Linked DNA regions of Homo sapiens. The protein of the gene in region 1 purifies or fractionates together with the protein of each later gene. This does not show direct contact. Each region holds a gene or a part of one and is shown on either strand. Other genes may lie near its edges.

Region 1 (3,813 bases):
GTGCCATGGGCCACTGCTGTAGCAGACATGACTAATCAACGCCTGCACTCTCCCTCTGAATCCCTCTTAACAGGTGGGAGAAGCACTATCTCAATGAATATCTACAAAACAGTGCCTGGGGAAGTACTGGCAGTGTTCCCATTTCGCAGATTAAAACAATCAAGACAGGCAGGCGGTGGACCTGGATTCAAACCTGGAAGCTCCATGGCCCTCCCCGCAGACCCAGTGCTCCAAACCTGAGATGTCCCCTGGCATGGAGACGCAGCGGCTCAGCAGAGGGGCCGAGGGGGTTTCCAGGGATGTGGGCTTCACAGGGTCCCCTGGGGGAGACACATGTTCAGGCTCCTGCCCCTCAGAGCCACTAGGAGGATTAGCAGGTTGGGAGATAAGGAGATGCTGGCGACTGATTAACTAGTTAAAGCAATTCCAATGGGCCCTTGGGGACGAGGCCACAGCTTCCTCGGTACCAGATAGGAGTCAGACCTGGGTACCCCGCTATGGAGTCCCTGTGGGGCTGGACAAGGTCAGGTTGACTCTATGCAGAACTGAAAAAGGGGCTGGCGGCTGAGACGGGGCTTCCTGGGAGATTGGGCTCGGCTGGCCTCGGGTCCCTGGGTACCTGTAGGTCCAGGCAGCGGGGCCCCGGTGGGATCGGGTGGCCGCCCTGGGGTCTCCCTGGGCTCGTCTGTAGCTGAGGTGCTGACCATTCTCTTGGAGCCCCGCACAGGGCTGGTGCGAGTTGGGAGGCCGGGGCTGGGGAACAGACGCAGGGGCTGGATCTCCTGGGGGCAGAGAACAGCTTGTGGCCTGTCCTGGGAGGGAGACCTCGCCCCCATCCCCCCTGTGCTCGCTCCCCGCCACCCACTCACGTGGCTGAAGAGCTCATTGGTCAGACCCAGGTAGTTGTGCAGTGCCAGGAAGGTGACTCGCTGCAGCCGCACCATGATGATCTGCAGGGCTCGAGGGGCGTGGCCATAAGATGGGGCGGGGTAAGGGGCAGGGCCAGATGGTGGGCCGGGCTAGTTCGCAGCATAAGGGGTCGGGCGGGAACCAGGGAGAGACCCACAGTCTGGGGAAATGGGGCGAGGCAGCTAAGGGAGGAGTCCGCGGCTGCAGACATCTGGCTGCTCCAGGCCGATAACCACAGCTCCAGCGCCTGCTGGCTGCTGGGCCTCGGTCCCTTGGAGCCTGGAATGGGTGGGGGCCAGGGTGGGGTCCCTCAGGGGGTGACAGGAGGCGAAGGCCCACTGACCTGCACGACCCGCACCAAGCTCTCCGGGTACTTGGTGAAGACCGCGGAGAATGCTTCCACCGGCAGGCGCAGCACCGTGGAGTCCCGGGCCGCCCGGGCAGACACGGTCCGCTGGGGATGCTGGTGACCCTGGGGGAGGGGAGGGCGTGAAGAGAGACAAGGGCAGAGGCTGCGAGTCCCCCTCGCTACTCCCCTAATCCTTCCTGGCGCCAGTCCCGTGAGGGGCCATCGGCAGCATAACGGATGAACCAGAGATTGGGGACCCTGTGATTTCCTTCAACCTAGTCCCTTGGGTGGGACCTTGCACCCCAGCCCCCCTGCCTCAGAAACTGGTCACTCACGGTGATGACATCCAGGATGCTGAGAAGGCTGTTGACGCTGTCCCCAGGAACCACTTCCTTCACCACACACTCCTTCCCGTCCTGAGACACAGGAGACCGTGGACCCTCAGTGGCCTCGCCCTGGTGACTGGCATGTCGCCCCCTCATCCATCCCAATGATCACTGACACTTCTCATCCCTTCTCAGGGGAACCCACCAACCCTTCCAACGAGCAGGCATCTCCCATCGTTCAATACTTGTAACTACTGAGCAACTACGCAGACTACCCCAAATGTCCTCGGTCACCCGTTCCCCTGACTCCCGATGACGCATCTCCAAAGACCACCAGCTCTACAGACCAATGCCTGCTGCCCATCCCCACCACCCATCCTCCTGCAGCAGCCCCTGGGGAGGCCCACTCACAGGCCCTGGCAGACAGAGCTCCAGCAGCCCGTCCTGCACCACGTAGATGCTGGCATCTGGCTGGCCCGGCCGGAAGACGTAGTCACCCTGGCCCAGCCGCTGGAAGACCATGTGGCGGCAGAGCTCCAGGAAGAGTGGCTTCTCGAAGTGGCCCAGCACCCTGTTGGACAGGCGGTGGGCGACAGAGGCTGGAGGTCAGGGCGGCCCCACGTCTGCAGCCCTCCACCCCCACCTGCACCCCAACACTGACCGGACGTTCTTGAGCATATAAAGCACTTCAGAGGGCAGATGGGAGTTAGCCAGGTCGCCCTCGGTCAGGTCAGCTTCTAGCACTGCGGGCGGGGGCTCCTTCCGCTGCAGCGTGGGCGTCTCTTTCTGGATGCGCAGGATCCTGGTGGGAGGGGAGGGGTGCCGGGGGTGAGGGGGGCACGGAGAAGGCTCAGGCAAACCTAAGACCCCCGCATACCCCTTTCCCCAGGGCTCATGTACAGCAAACTCTGGCCCGCTGGCCAAATCAGGCTGGCCACCTTTTTTTTTTTTTTTTTTTTTTTGAGACGAAGTTTTGCTCTTGTTTCCCAGGCTGGAGTGCAATGGTGCGATCTCGGCTCACTGCAACCTCCACCTCCAGGGTTCAAGCGATTCTCCTGCCTCAGCCTCCCTAGTAGCTGGGATTACAGGCATGTGCCACCACGCCCAGCTAATTTTGCATTTTTAGTAGAGATGGGGTTTCTCCATGTTGGGCAGGCTGGTCTCGAACTCCTGACCTCAGGTGATCCGCCCGACTCGGCCTCCCAAAGGCTGGGATTAAAGGTGTGAGCCACTGTGCCCTGCCTCAGGAGTCTCGCTCTTTTACCCAGGCTGGAGTGCAGTGGCGAAATCTCGGCCCACTGCAACCTCCACCTCCCAGGCTAAAGCGATTCTCCTGCCTCGGCCTCCCAAGTAGCTGGGACTACAGGTGGGTGCCACCACGCCCAGCTAATTTTTTGTATTTTTAGTAGAGATGAGGTTTCCCCATGTTGGCCAGGCTGGTCTCAAACTCCTGAACTCAAGTGATCCTCCCGCCTCAGCCTCCCAAAGTGCTAGGATTACAGGCGTGAGCCACTGCACCCGGCTGGCCACATTTATTTTGGTAAATAAAGTTTTATTGGTACAAAGCCACATTCATGTATTTGCATATCATTATGGCTGCTCCCATGCAGCAGAGTTGAAGAGTTGCAATGGGGACCATATGTGGCCAGCAAAGCCTGAAACATTTACTATCTGGCCCTTTATGGAAAAACCCTATGACCCCAGACCTAAAGTTCTCTGAGATGGCCCCTCCACTAGGCATAGGCCCCTGAGCTGAACCCTTTAGGAAGGCAGACCCCTGACATAGCTTCCAAGATAAGGGTAGGCCCAGAAATGGTACCTGTGTTTATCATGGGGGTCCTGAAACGGTCCTTCCAGTAGTCACAGAGTAGATTCCTGAGATAGTCCCCTTAACGTGAGTATGCCTTTGACATAGCTTCCAATATATGAGAAGACCGCAGATACAGTCTCTCTGTTCTACATAAACATTCCTGAGATAGACCTTCCTCCCAGTCTCAGAGAACCTTGAGACAGCCCCTCTGACAGCCACAGAGGTCCCTGAAGTAGCCCTCATTATAAGTGGAGAATCCAGATAGCCCCTCTGCTAATCGTGGACCTGGGAGAGCCCTTCCCCACAAGTCACAGTGATTGCTGAGAAAGACCCTCCGCTGGCAAAAGATCCCTGAGATAGACCTTGGAGGATGGGACCCTGAGTTAAACTCAGTGAAATCAAGAAATTCAGATATAATT
Region 2 (3,813 bases), on another chromosome or scaffold:
CATATAGAACCCATAGGATTACATTATTAATAAATCCCAAATGCTTAGAAGGACTGTATTAGAATATCATCTCTAGGACGGGCACGGTGGCTCATGCCTGTAATCCCAGCACTTTGGGAGGTCGAGGCGGGTGGATCACAAGGTCAGGAGTTCAAGACCAGCCTGACCAACATGGTGAAACCCGTCTCTATAAAAATACAAAAATTAGCTGGGCGCATTGGCAGGCACCTGTAATCCCAGCTACTTGGGAGGCTGAGACAGGAGAATTGCTTGAACTTGGGGGGCAGAAATTGCAGTGAGCCAAGATCGTGCTACTGTACTCCAGCCTGGGCAACAGAGTAAGACTCCATCTCAAATAAAAGAAAAAAAAAGAATATCATCTCCAAATATAAGCGATTATCCTTTATCAAATTCATTCTGATAAGAAAACATTCTGTTACTCCAAAATAAATAACAATGACACTACTTTTCAAGTCATTTTGATTCTCCATTTCTCCGAATGCCAATATTAGGTGATACGAAGGCCACAGATGGGATACGAGTATGGGCCCCAAGCAAGCTGGACAGCCCAGAGGTATTGTAATGGCCCTCTTCCCCCAGCAGTAACCATCCAAACCCATTACATAGGCAAGGCCAATTCAGACTACCAATCCCTGGAAGTAACTGAGCACATGTCATTAGGTGAATACATTTTCAAAATTACTGTTGTGACAGTAACGTGTGGTAGGCGATTTCTACATAAATATCATCAAGACCCTCAGGATACACAAAAGCATTCTTAACCTAGCAGCATGTCACATTCCTGAACCTTAAAAAAAAAAAGATGATGTCAAGAATAGACATGAAATGGGAATTTATTTAAAATCAAAGTGCTTAGTTATATTTTCCCACAATTCAGAAACTTTCCATTATTTCTCCAGGACTCAGCTTGGGGCAGTTTTCCTGTGATCTTTGCAGTTAATAAATGTGCTGGCCTCAGTGACCACAAATAACCAGCAGAACCAAGAGAAACATATCTGAGTGCTTTCACTATAGCACAGGCACACAGGGAGTTTGTTTCAAGTGAAATAACCTCTGTGTGCTGCCTGGGGATGGGACCGGGGGTACCTGGACCAGACTCTCAGTGAGAAATGGCCCAGAGCTGAGAGATGGCAGCTTGTGGAACCAGGGCTGCCAGGGTTACCTAGAGCTTAGGTAGGGCTTGGAAGCAGTGAGAGACTTGGGGTCCTGCTCACCTGGGACCCTGGCTGTGGACTCCCTGCCTGGCTCTGCCCCCTGCCTCTACTCAGGGGAATGGGTGGGGGTGGGCATGAGCAACAGCAGCCCTCTCACTCCCACCCCACAGGACATCTTGCTGGGCTGATGGGAGCCAGAATGCTTGCAAAAGTTGGGGAAAGTCCCCTCCCCGTTTACCATCCAGATCTCTTCCAGGTTTAGGAGGCTAGGAGACAAATACAAAGCTACAGCCATCATCTGGTCTGCTCACACTGACGAGCTGCCTCTGTACTCCAGTGCTTGTCCCGTCCTGCCCTGGAATGGGAATGGGACTAGCACTGCCCATATCCTGACTATATCCTGTCCTGGGCATGGCTGGGCACAGCTTTCATGGGATCATTCCAGCCAATGAATGCACAGCCAGGGAGTACTTGAAAGGTACACCTGTTAACTGATCAATGTTGAAAGGGTGGCAGAGACAGCTCAGTAACCACATATGGGTTTCTGAATATTTAATTACTTAATTTTTAAAGATTAATTTAGAACTTAAAAAACATGTACCATTAAACACACAGCACCTCTTAGGAACTTGACGGAATGTAAAACAGATGTCTAAAGAACTGGGGACCAACACTTGAATGGATGTTGACACAAAAACTTGTATTTAGTTAAAAGTGACTCTCTTTTGATTTTTTTTGAAACGGAGTTTCACTCTTGTTGCCCAGGCTGGAGTGCAATGGCGCGATCTTGGCTCACCACAACCTCCGCCTCCCGGGTTCAAGCGATTCTCCTGCCTCAGCCTCCCGAGTAGCTGGGATTACAGGTGCCTGCCACCACGCCTGGCTAATTTTTGTATTTTTAGTAGAGACAGGGTTTCGCTATGTTGGCCAGGCTGGTCTCGAACTCCCAACCTCAGGTGATCCACCCGCCTCGGCCTCCCAAAGTGCTGGGATTACAGGTGTGAGCCACCGCGCCTGGCCTGATCTTTTAAGAGTTCAATTCTTGGACTTAATGTTGTGTCTGAAAAGGAGGATAAAATATATGAAGAATACACTGAATATAACACAATGGAATTATCTTATTTGCCAGTGTAGAAAGCAAATATCTTCACGTTTACCCTCAAAAAATCCTGAAAGACACCTGGAACCTCAGCAGCTGAGAGAGAGGGGCAGATTCCCACCTCCCAGGCTACCCTCGCTCCAGCAATGGATACTGGGTGGAGTAATGTGGAGAGTTTTCCTTCAGTATAGAAAACACCACTTGTTCTTCTCTCTCAGTCTCTCTTGTTTTTGTTTGGTTTGAGCTCCTATAGTTTAATGTGGTCAAATTAAGTAAGATTTTACTATGAGGAACTATGAAAATCTGTTAGAAGAACATGCATTGGACTTTGTACAGCTAGTTTTTGTTTTTTTTGTTTTTCCCTCCAAGTGAAACCTACAGCTAGGTCATTTAAAAGAATATTTAATTTAACTCTTGTATCGCTATAGATCTTTGTGTGCATATGAAATTAATCCGTATCAGAGACCTGTAACTTAAGAGAATCAGCTCCTACCATGCAAAGGTGTTTGAAGAAAGATACATGTTAGATGATGGCAAGGTGTAGAATTGTGTGGATGGTATTCTACCATTTGCCTTACACACACGCACGCATGCCCGCATACACACGCTCTCTTATACATGGAGAATCTCTCTGGAAGGATACACAAGTAACTGGTGCAACAGTAACTTGACTCTGGGAGAGGAACTGGGTGTCGGAGAAAGGAGGGAGGCTTTCCAGTTTCTGTCCTCTAATAACTTTTGAATTCTGTACTACATACATATATTAATCAAACTTAAATGCTTGTAACTGGGAAGAAAATAATAGAATAGTACTCAATTATTATTATTATTATTTTGAGATGGAGTTTTGCTCTTGTTGCCCAGGCTGGAGTGCAATGGCACAACCTCAGATCACTGCAATCCCCACCTCCTGGGTTCAAGCGATTCTCCTGCCTCAGCCTCCCGAGTAGCTGGGATTACAGGCATCTCCACCACCACGCCCAGTTAAAGTTTTGTATTTTAGTAGAGCGGTTTCATCATGTTGGCCAGGCTGGTCTCCAACTCCTGACCTGAGGTGATCCTCCCGCCTCGGCCTCCCAAAGTGCTGGGACTACAGGCATGAGCCACCGTGCTTGGCTGAGAATTATCCAAATACCTTAATGAGGCCTTTATGATATTTATGATACAGCCTTGACTGGCCTGATATAACTGGATGCAAACAATTTTAACAAAAAAGAAAATTATAAGCCCAGGAGCTGCTTGCATACCTCGTTTTGACTCTGTACCCCATGGCAACTATAAATACATGATTCCTGTGTCTGGGAAAGGTTTCTGCACATTGGATGACAAACAATATACATTTACAAAATCCAAATTCCTGCCCCTTCAAAATTCTGTTCCGTCTGCGTAGTCTTTCGCAATAAAGTCTAAATACCTGGTTGAGAAAAAAGCAGCTGTGACAGATGCTGTGCAAGCGTCTGAAGGGCTGCGGCTCCTCCCAGGTGCTCCACATCCAGGAGGGACACAAGACTCTGGAGACAGAAGAGGGCTCTGCACTGA

The links.
Region 2: the proteins of PNPLA6 (region 1) and HEATR3 purify together in Homo sapiens (co-immunoprecipitation; one large-scale study listed by IntAct). This does not show direct contact.

Annotation. Positions count from the first base shown.
Region 1 is NC_000019.10:7,538,491-7,542,303, reverse strand, and holds part of PNPLA6 (patatin-like phospholipase domain-containing protein 6), read right to left. Parts: intron 2,387-3,813; coding exon 2,246-2,386; intron 2,156-2,245; coding exon 1,996-2,155; intron 1,675-1,995; coding exon 1,594-1,674; intron 1,382-1,593; coding exon 1,253-1,381; intron 951-1,252; coding exon 870-950; intron 783-869; coding exon 620-782; intron 321-619; coding exon 237-320; intron 1-236. UniProt on the Homo sapiens protein: Phospholipase B that deacylates intracellular phosphatidylcholine (PtdCho), generating glycerophosphocholine (GroPtdCho). This deacylation occurs at both sn-2 and sn-1 positions of PtdCho.
Region 2 is NC_000016.10:50,086,227-50,090,039, reverse strand, and holds part of HEATR3 (HEAT repeat-containing protein 3), read right to left. Parts: coding exon 3,689-3,813; intron 1-3,688. UniProt on the Homo sapiens protein: Plays a role in ribosome biogenesis and in nuclear import of the 60S ribosomal protein L5/large ribosomal subunit protein uL18 (RPL5). Required for proper erythrocyte maturation.